Homo sapiens: one gene and its partners. The protein of the gene in region 2 purifies or fractionates together with the protein of the main gene of each other region. This does not show direct contact. Each region holds a gene or a part of one and is shown on either strand. Other genes may lie near its edges. The genes, in order: CLPTM1L, SLC38A4 and SLC5A12.

The links.
Region 1: the proteins of SLC38A4 (region 2) and CLPTM1L purify together in Homo sapiens (affinity purification with mass spectrometry; one large-scale study listed by BioGRID and IntAct). This does not show direct contact.
Region 3: the proteins of SLC38A4 (region 2) and SLC5A12 purify together in Homo sapiens (affinity purification with mass spectrometry; one large-scale study listed by BioGRID and IntAct). This does not show direct contact.

What each region holds. Positions count from the first base shown.
Region 1 is NC_000005.10:1,324,497-1,328,149, forward strand, and holds part of CLPTM1L (lipid scramblase CLPTM1L), read right to left. Parts: intron 1,321-3,653; coding exon 1,255-1,320; intron 318-1,254; coding exon 267-317; intron 1-266. UniProt on the Homo sapiens protein: Scramblase that mediates the translocation of glucosaminylphosphatidylinositol (alpha-D-GlcN-(1-6)-(1,2-diacyl-sn-glycero-3-phospho)-1D-myo-inositol, GlcN-PI) across the endoplasmic reticulum (ER) membrane, from the cytosolic leaflet to the luminal leaflet of the ER membrane, where it participates in the biosynthesis of glycosylphosphatidylinositol (GPI).
Region 2 is NC_000012.12:46,773,901-46,777,553, forward strand, and holds part of SLC38A4 (sodium-coupled neutral amino acid transporter 4), read right to left. Parts: intron 3,105-3,653; coding exon 3,004-3,104; intron 1,274-3,003; coding exon 1,149-1,273; intron 1-1,148. UniProt on the Homo sapiens protein: Symporter that cotransports neutral amino acids and sodium ions from the extraccellular to the intracellular side of the cell membrane. The transport is electrogenic, pH dependent and partially tolerates substitution of Na(+) by Li(+).
Region 3 is NC_000011.10:26,677,029-26,680,681, forward strand, and holds part of SLC5A12 (sodium-coupled monocarboxylate transporter 2), read right to left. Parts: intron 1,788-3,653; coding exon 1,684-1,787; intron 1-1,683. UniProt on the Homo sapiens protein: Acts as an electroneutral and low-affinity sodium (Na(+))-dependent sodium-coupled solute transporter.

The DNA of each region.
Region 1 (3,653 bases), on a different chromosome or scaffold from region 2:
TGACTTACAAACGATGAAAATATCCCTACTATACGGTGACACAGGCAGGCTGTGCCTGTAAGGACTGGGAAATGAGTCTCTGCGAGCCCCCGCCCTTCCCAGTAAGAAATTTGGGTTTTATGTGTTCACTCTTGGGATCCCTGCTCAAGGCGGGCTGACCCGTACTCCAAGGAGACTTCCGCACTGAGCAATGACAGTAAAAGACCCGTCTTTGAGGGTGTTGGATTTGCCTGGCATGCACGTGCCCTGAATCACAAGTGACTTACCTGAGTATCGTACTCCTCGGTTTTCCTCTCAGATTCGCTGTAAGTGCCAAACTGTTGTGAAATTCAACACAGTGATATTAATAGACTCAGGGAGGATCTGAGCACAGCTGAGCTGTGACTAAGGGGCGTCACATATGGCTGCAGAGCTGACCCAGGCCTCACTACAGAGGGCGCTCAGGTCCCTACCAGGCGAGGAGAGGACCCAGAGGACGGGGATCCGCATGGATCCTTCCCGCCTCACCCTGGCCCTGGGTCCCACAAGCCTGATGGGGGCAACGCGGCCTCACTGCTGTTCCTTGCTCAGGTGGCTCAGTTTTCAGTGCCACCGCTTCAGTGAGAACACTGCAGAGCACACAGGCACAGCCAACACTGCTCCGAACCAGCCGGCCGGGAGCCATGGGGCAAGGTGGAACACAGTGGCTGCGCTGCGTGTGCTGGGCTTCCTGACCCCCCTGCCCACAGCATGGAAAATCTCAGCCTGTGACTGCTGAGGGCCCCGCCTCAATCAAGGTCCATCCGTGGGCACTGAGATTCAACTCCAGCTCTGCCCCAGCCCTCATCTGCCTAGGGGCCTTATGGGCGCCCAGGCACTGGGGCAGCCACCAGCTCAGGGCAGGGGCTCACTCACTTCAGGACTGCCAGGACTGTACGGACCCCAGTCAGCACCAGCCTCGGGAGCGCCTCTGGACAAGGTGCCAAAACGAAGCACACGTGCTGGCCAGCCAGCATCCTTCCTCCCAGAGGCCGGCTCAGGCCCAGAAGTGCTGCCGTCTGCACTGAAGACGGTCAGAACTAGGTATATGACCGGGGAATCCTCAGGCGAAGAGAGTGGCTGCGATCAGAAACCAGTGCTGCCTCCACCACGGAGGCTCCCCTGACAGAGGCCCGCAGTGACTCATCTGCAGATGGCCATCTTACTCTTTGCACAGGGGGCAAAATCACACTCTTCAGAGAGGCTTGGGGTTCAGCCATTACAACTAAATCCTACCTGAAATTCGGGCATCAGGCCTCTCCAAAAAATAGTCATCTTCAATGCCTTCTTCACTTTCCACAGCTGAGGGGAGAAATCAGGAAATAGTTCCTTTAATATTCGAAGGCCAGGAGCCACGAATGAACGACCCAGACAGTAACGGGTAGGACCTGCTGCCCATGGCCCCGCGCAGCCCACTGTCCTCTTCCTGTCCCTCCCACAGCTCAGGCCAGAGCGCTGGAGGCTGGACCTGGGCCTCTAACCCACACACGGCAGGCGTACCTGGTCAGGTGGGCTGCACAGCCACCGCCCAGCGGACAACAAAAACAGCATGTGAGGGCAGTTCTTTACGCCACTCTGCCTGCACCCAAATAAGCCCCCACCTACTTCTGCCTGCCACTCGGGCAGCCCTGGAGCCAGTTTTGGGACCGCTCTGAGAGCCGCCACCTCATGGCTAAATGCTTGGAAGGCATCACCCACGGAGCTCAGGACGGGTGCCAGAGCCGGGCACGGCACTGTGACTCGTACCTATGGAGGGACCCTGCCTGTGGAGCTCCAGCGTCATTTCATCCAGCTCCTCCTCTACAGGGACATTCCATCCAGCTCCTCCTCTACAGACACATTCCATGCAGCTCCTCCTCTACAGACACATTTCATCCAGCTCCTCCTCTACAGACACATTTCATCCAGCTCCTCCTCGACAGACACATTTCATTTCATCCAGCTCCTCCTCCACAGACACATTTCATCCAGCTCCTCCTCTACAGGGACATTCCATCCAGCTCCTCCTCTACCGACACATTTCATCCAGCTCCTCCTCTAGACACATTCCATCCAGCTCCTCCTCTACAGACACATTTCATCCAGCTCCTCCTCTACAGACACATTTCATCCAGCTCCTCCTCTACAGACACATTTCATCCAGCTCCTCCTCTACGGGGACATTCCATCCAGCTCCTCCTCTACGGGGACATTCCATCCAGCTCCTCCTCTACGGGGACATTTCATCCAGCTCCTCCTCTACAGGGACAATCCATCCAGCTCCTCCTCTACAGGGACATTTCATCCAGCTCCTCCCCTACAGGGACATTTCATCCAGCTCCTCCTCGACAGACACATTTCATCCAGCTCCTCCTCGACAGACACATTTCATCCAGCTCCTCCTCTACGGACACATTTCATCCAGCTCCTCCTCTACGGACACATTTCATCCAGCTCCTCCTCTACGGACACATTCCATCCAGCTCCTCCTCCACAGGGACATTTCATCCAGCTCCTCCTCTACAGGGACATTCCACCCAGCTCCTCCTCTACAGGGACATTCCACCCAGCTCCTCCTCGACAGGGACATTCCACCCAGCTCCTCCTCGACAGACACATTCCATCCAGCTCCTCCTCTACAGACACATTTCATCCAGCTCCTCCTCTACAGGCACATTCCATCCAGCTCCTCCTCTACAGACACATTCCATCCAGCTCCTCCTCTACAGACACATTTCATCCAGCTCCTCCTCGACAGACACATTCCATCCAGCTCCTCCTCTACAGGGACATTTCATCCAGCTCCTCCTCTACAGACACATTCCATCCAGCTCCTCCTCTACAGACACATTCCATCCAGCTCCTCCTCTACAGGCACATTCCATCCAGCTCCTCCTCTACAGGCACATTCCATCCAGCTCCTCCTCTACAGACATATTTCATCCAGCTCCTCCTCTACAGGGACATTCCATCCAGCTCCTCCTCTACAGGGACATTTCATCCAGCTCCTCCTCTACAGGGACATTCCATCCAGCTCCTCCTCTACAGGGACATTCCATCCAGCTCCTGCTCTACAGGGACATTCCATCCAGCTCCTCCTCTACAGACACATTTCATCCAGCTCCTCCTCTACAGACACATTCCACCCAGCTCCTCCTCTACAGACACATTTCATCCAGCTCCTCCTCTACAGACACATTTCATCCTGCTCCTCCTCTACAGGGACATTTCATCCAGCTCCTCCTCTACAGGGACATTCCACCCAGCTCCTCCTCTACAGGGACATTCCACCCAGCTCCTCCTCTACAGACACATTCCATCCAGCTCCTCCTCTACAGACACATTCCATCCAGCTCCTCCTCTACAGACACATTTCATCCAGCTCCTCCTCTACAGGGACATTCCATCCAGCTCCTCCTCTACAGACACATTCCATCCAGCTCCTCCTCGACAGACACATTCCATCCAGCTCCTCCTCTACAGACACATTCCATCCAGCTCCTCCTCTACGGACACATTCCATCCAGCTCCTCCTCTACAGACACATTCCATCCAGCTCCTCCTCTACAGACACATTCCATCCAGCTCCTCCTCTACAGACACATTCCATCCAGCTCCTCCTCTACAGACACATTCCATCCAGCTCCTCCTCTACA
Region 2 (3,653 bases):
TTTTTTTACACATAAAAAGAAGGGCTCCAGATATCCTTTTCTCAGTGAAGTTGTTTGCCTGGCAATTTTACCCTATCGTATACCTTCTGTTTATAGTTGTCTTCTGTCTTGTACCCAAGACGGAGCTGATTTTAGGCTAAAGCTATGTGTATGTCATCTGAAATACTTTCAGATATATTAGAGGCAAGACATGATTTAAGAGTAAAATATTAGCCACCATAGTAGTACGGATCTGATTTCATGCACTCATGAAAAAGGAATGTGCCAAAATATATTTCAGCACACAAGCTGCATTTAAAGTGACCACAGTGTCATTATAGAAATAGTCTTCATATGCAAGCCCTGTATGGAACATTATGTCCAGGACAGTGCTGGTTACTGTGTCACTTATTTTTTTCCCCCTCAAATGAATGAGTAAATTCAGTGTTTATGAAACAGGAGCTGGCAGGAGGGTGAAGACCTGTGTTTATCCTTAGGTGGTGGTTTTAACTCACACAGCCCAAATCTTCACTACCAGCTCTGCTCTGGGATCTCAGAACAAACTGACACCAATGACAAATGCCAGGGAGGGGTGACCTGGTGTGAGTCTGGCAGAGGCCATGTGTGAGAGAGATATGTGATAGATAGCATAACTGTTTTTTGAAAAATTTTTTTCTGGTATATAATTTACTTAACATGAATCCCCTTTTCATTAGCCTTCAAGGCATCAGGTTAAAAAAGGCAACTTTTGTATATTATTGCAGCACAACAAACTGGAAAAAAAATGAAATGCCTTCAAAACTGTGATGAAATTTAATAAGATTTGAAAGTTAATATGGTTTTGGCTTTCAAGGTTCCAAAGTTATATGAACTCCTACTCAGTTTTACTAATCCACAAGACAGAAGCTCCAGCTCCACTTTTCAACTTTGAGTTTAAAAATAAGTTTTATGATTTTTTTCCTACACTATAAAAATACCACCTGAAACTACTTGCTCTATCTACACATTAAATGGCCAATTTTAAGTGACTCAAAATGCTATAGGAAAATAATATCCTCAGGCATTGCAATTGCAAACTCACCCTATAATTAAATCAAAATGAAGGTAGAACACATGTACTAATTTATGGGGTCAAGTAGGTTTCTTTCATCAAAGTCTTATGTACTTACTGGGAAGAGGACAATGGGCACAGTTAGTGTTACTGCCACAAGGACTGCCAGGCGAACCATGAGAAGAGGGATGTCTAATGTATACACTTTGCTGTAGGCATGAAGTAATTCATCTTCAACTTCTCCTACAACAGGAAAAAGAGAATGAAACCGCTTGGTGTTGTCAAATCAGCACAGGTCACTTATGGCAACATTTTATAGAGAGAACACAGAACAGAGGAAAAGACCTAGGCCTGGGAATCCAGGCACCTCTGGTCTTGCCTCTGAGCTCATTAGCTATGCAACCTTCATTCAAATGAACAAAGAGGTCCTGAAGCTGATAACGTTGCAGAAGGTATAATACAAAATAAAGAGCCTCTCAAGCTCATTTACATTGTGATAAATCTATCTCCGCTGTACAGAAGCAATTACAAATCAGACAGAGACCAAGGTGCTCTTGTTGAAGGGGATGAGAGACCCAAGCCCCACATATTGTCTCTCCCAGCCTACCACCTCCCCTGTCCCTACCTGCGCAGCCACTCCTGATGCAGGTTACAAACCCAGTGTGTAAACTCTAGGATGAATGATTGCTACCATTTTTTCAAGCTCAACAACTATGACTCCATCACCACACTAAAACAGATATTTTTGGGCTCTTTCAAGTTTTTGCTTGTCTTATGAAACTCATTAAAATAAGTATAAGTAACATGCAGGGATAAATTAGTATAATTTTTAGATGGTCTCCCAGTGGGTACTACTCTAAGACGAAGATGCAGCCCTACTTGAAAACACCTTCATTCAGGACTCCAAGCACAAATAACAAGAAAATATCTATGGAATCAAGCGTAGTTGGATTTTCACCTCAAGATCAGACAAAAAGGAGTGAAAATACCTTCAGTAGTATTGACCTCGTCATTCATTATTTCACAACCGGCAAAAAGTTAATGCCCAATCTAAAGCACATGTTTGGTTAATAGTCAAATATTAGTCAAATAGAAAAAAAACCTAAGCAAATGGTGGCCTACTCCTGAATCTTTTCCTCCACAATTTGTCATACATGCAATTCAATTTACCAAGTCAGTAAGAAAAAAATTAAGTTAAAAACTTTAAAAGGAGGTTTATACAAAAATATATTTATATTGATACACTGATTCATGTAAACATATGCTACCAGGTCAATATGTGATTCCATGAAATCTGTTTATGTGGCCACACTTCATGGAAGGAGTACAATCCTACTCCCTTTGTGAACTGTTAAGATGCCAGAGAGGAAATGTTGCAGGCATAATCTAATGTGGCCATAGTCACTTTTTTTTGGTGGTGCATTCTTAGATTGAAGGAAATTCTGTCATGTCCTCTTTCTTAGGAAATCATTTAGTATAACAAAATAGAATGGGATATGTCAGAAATTTTACCTAAAGTCCCAAGCTCCCAGATTTGACTTGACTGGTAAAGAGGAGGCAAATTCAAACTTGAGGACCTGGCAGTTTCCCTGCTATTTGTGTGGCAGGTAATAATTCCATCAAAGGAGCTTTATCACATGCAAGTGGATTCATTCTCATCACTTGTAGCCTGAGTTGGACTATGGAGTCTAGCCAGAGAAATATCATCTATCCCTAGAGGAAAATAATTTTGTTTGAGGGATATTTTTTATAAAATAGGTGTTAATTCACAAATTCTTGTAACTTGTTAGCCAGGCTGAATCAGGCCCCATTTCCTCAGGTCAAGTGACAAAACTAAAATAGTATATTAATTGAATATGTGTCATCTATAGAGCATGCTTATAGAAGGCAATTTTTAAAAATCATACCTACCCAGGTCAAGGACCAGCCTAACAAGGATTTGCATATAGAGAATGACTTTCAGAGTGACCTACCATAGAAGGTTAGGTAACCAAAGAGGGCGGCAAGCAGGTACATGACAAGCATCCCCGTGATGGAAATATTTGACACCGTTTGCATTTTTCTCCGGGACCGACTGGAAAAAGAAAGAACACCAAGCTTTGTTTTTTAAACTTACAAAAAAAAATCACTTTTCAAAATGAAAATAATAATAAAAAAGTATATCTATATTGCTCATCATGAAGACATATTTAGTACATAAACTTATAGCTGATTTAAATTTGTCTTAGAGAGCTAATGAGGATTCATTTCCATTTTTCTTAAACACTAGTCCTTCAGTCTTAAAAACAATCATTTCCCTAGAAGAGGAACAGTCTATTTCACGTAGGTCAGTAAGCTTGCCCACTGAATAAGAATATAATTAACATAAAGATCAAACAGGCTCCTAACATAGAAAGCTTTTGCATTTCATAATGAGATGACTTTAGATGAGGAAAAGAACCTAGTAGAGTCAGCAAAGTACTACTGCCAGGAGTCCAGACTACCTGAAAAGCTTCTGAAAACCATTCTAGAAGGAACCTGGCTGCCAAAGATCAATTGTCAGGCTTCTGGAGTAACTGCTACATGTAATTTTCAAAGTAAATCAAAGACATCAAAATACTTGAAAGTGTTCTGAAATTTTTTA
Region 3 (3,653 bases), on a different chromosome or scaffold from region 2:
AGATTCAGTGGGTATTACAGAAGATTTGTTAAAGCCTCTTAGTGAGCAGACCTGAGGTTATCAGGCTAGCCCTAAGGCCTCATTTGGAAGACAGGGACCAGGAGGCAAGAACATCTGGTGGTCATGTTCAAAAATTTTTCCAAATGTTTGAAGGCATAATTAGACTTTGTTAGAGTGTTCGCTTTTGGCCTGAAGGGCATTTGACTAAGACCTGGCTTATTTGGAGAAAAAGAAAACAAAGGGATTAATACTGGAAGAGTTATTCATGCTGAAAATGTGTAAGAATTTTCAATCAAATTTAATATAAGTGCTGCTGTATCAACATAAGAGCATGCTAATTCTGGTGCACACATGGAAAATATGGACTGGCAAACTACTGGATTTCATGTGTACACATTTCCTGATTTAGAAGGAAATGTTCAGGCAGCTGAAATCTTGGTTGTCTTCTTAGTGGTGACCGATCACTAAACTGAAATGTCTAGGTATATCCCACTAGCATCAAGGAAGGAGTTACAGATGTCAGGGTACTAAGGCAAAATCTAAACAAAATGAATAAACAATCTTTTGCCTGAAACCATTTACATAAAGACATTGAGAGAGTTGTTATTATGTGAAAGACTGGGGTTACAAGATTTATAGTCTATTCTTTATCATAGCCAAGATCTTCTTAAATTTCAGTGAATGGCTAGTGACATCATGCACAGAACAATAGGGCATTGGAGCTTCAATATAACATCTCTAGTACACAGTCACCAGAAATGTTGCCATTCAGGTTTTGTGTTGAGTCAGAATGTTGGCCATTGTTCATTGGTATATAATAGTCATGGAAAAATAGAATACCTTAAAATTTTTTAGCTAAAATACATACTCCAAGGAGGTGGAGGGACAAGAGTACAGTGAACTTATTCCACCCCATTATCTCCCACACTCTCACCACTACCAACCCCTCATGGGCTTTGAAACAAAAAGGACATTAATACATCAAAAGGGCAAGTATGGATGGTAGACACTTTGCTAAAAATGGCTTACAGTGAAGCTGCTCACTGCAGAGAACTCCACGACCCTAGAGAAGCAGCCTCCAAAGGACAACATAGGCAAAAACAACAGTGTTTTGCTTTTCTAGTAAGTTAGCAAAGGCTGACTTCATGAGATAGTAAGATGGTGATGACAAAAATCTTGTCTCTTACTGGGATGAAGGGAAAAGAACCACTCTGAATATTTAACCTTATTTACTGATTGTTATATTACAGAGGGTTTTTCATACTCAGGCCTCTGGGGGGCATGTGTCAAAGCATCTTTTTTTAAATAATATATGGGAAATGTTTGAATATATGTTTTTTTGTTTGGTTGGGGTTTTTTTTGGTTTTTTGAGACGGAGCCTTGCTCTGTTGCCCAAGCTGGAGTGCAATGGCACCATCTCAGCTCACTGCAACCTCCACCTTCTGGGTTCAAGCGATTCTCCTGCCTCAGCCTCCCGTGAATATATGTTTTATATATTAATAGTCAGGTATATAATAATGAAGGGTGCCTTTGTATGTCAGCGTTGAGAGAGTAGACATCTCTGTGGGAAGAAGGGTTTTTGTGGGAAACGTGAATTCAAAGCAATAAGACAGACAGCCAGTCCACCAATGCATGCATGAGCCCATATCTTCTTTAGTCCCAAAGGGAGGAATTATAACCAACCTGTTATGAGGCTGATGATTACTCCAGCAACAATGCATCCTAAGCAGCCCACTGCACTGTAGTAAAGGTAGGAGATCGAGTACCAGGTATCAGCTATTCCAGGTCTGTGGAGAACAGCACATGTCACCAATTCCATGCATCCTAAAGACCCACAGTGATGTAGAGGACTGCTCAGGATTCATTTTAGGGCCTGGCATCTCAAAAGCCTAAATCATAACTTTTTGTCATTTAAAAAATTATATTTAGAGAAGATGTGCTTTGTATTCCACTCAATTCAATTCATTCCTGAATTACAAATATAACGATGTTGATACTGAATCATAAGTATTACAATGAGGATTGTGTCTTAATACAAATAATACAATTTCATTTGTATTATTTATTCTTCAGACTTTTATTAAGCCCAGATTTAGTGCTAGTAATTGTGACAAGCATTAGTGATATAAAGATGAGAAAGTCACAAAGTCTACATACAGGAGCTAATAGACAATCATAAAATGGGTTGGTTTTGCCTCAGTAGAAAAGGTATAAAATACTATGGCAGCCTTCAGAGTAGTATCAAATTCAGACCAATGCGTGAGATGATACCTCAGCTCATTTTGAAAGAATAATTAGTAGTTAATCAAGCAAAGAGGGTAGTCAGGGCCAGGAATTAGCATTCTAAGAAGAGAATACAGTAAGTATAGGCAGGAGGGAAGAATCAACATGGTTTATGGGGAACCATGAATAGGTTGAAATTCTTCGATATAAAATTTATGGAAAGAAAATGAAACTCAAAGACAAATGGAAGCAAAATAATGGAGTGCCCATTTGGAACCTGAGTCAAAATGAACTTTATGGAGGAATAGGAGACACTAGTATGGCTCTTGAAAGATAAACAGATTTTAGGAGAGTGGAAATGAACACTAAAATATATTCATGTAAAGGGAATAGCTTAAGGACCCAAATGTAGGAAAGAGTGGGATAAGCATAGGTAGACGAGAAGAAACAGAATTCAGAGTAGAAGGAAAACAATAGTTAATAACATTAAAACCACAGGAAAGTTTTAAGTTTGGCAGGTATTTAGCTCCAGGATAAAAAGGTTGTGTTTTATTCCATAAGCACATGAATCATTTAAGTCATCTCCATGTGGTAGTAATGAGTTCAGAAAGGTGCTTCAGAAAAAATAAATCTAGTGATGCTTGGATAGAATGGGTTGTATTAGAAAGGAAAAGAGATAGAAAAATGGAGGAAATAAAAAATACAAATAAGATAATTTCACTTTTCTGGACTTTGTAAAGACAAGACTAGCCTCAAGATTGACAAGGACAATGGAGAGGAGAAGATATGCCGGACCGAGAGAGACTTTCATGAATGCAATTTGCCACATTATCTGGCCAGTTTGAGAAGCCTGGACTCAGAGGGAATGAGCCAGTATGGGGAGATATTGATGATAATCAGAAAAGGGCTACTAAAAATGAAGTACTTTTGAGGATACACAAATAACACAAATCCTATATTTTCTAGACTTGCTCTTACATACAATTAGAATGTGAGAGTGAACATTTATTAAAGTCACGTGTAGTGCTACTTTATATATATGTATATATATTCATATATATATATGTATATATATTCATATATATATGTATATATATTCATATATATATGTATATATATTCATATATATATGTATATATATTCATATATATATATATATTTCCTCATTTTTCCATCAAGGGCTCTGAGAATTCAAGAAGTTACAACTTACTAACTTGTCCAAAGATACAGAGGGAATAAATTATAAAACCAAAATCCAAACCCAAATATTTCAGATTTCAAAGTCCACAATCGTCTCTCTACACCATAGTATCTGATGTATTTTGATATATTTGATCACTTACCCCAGCCAGAAGTACAAAGGGAAATCCTTTGTTAAACCCTGTGTTCATATTGTTTGGTTTAGAAGCCATAGGTTCACAGCGGTGCTC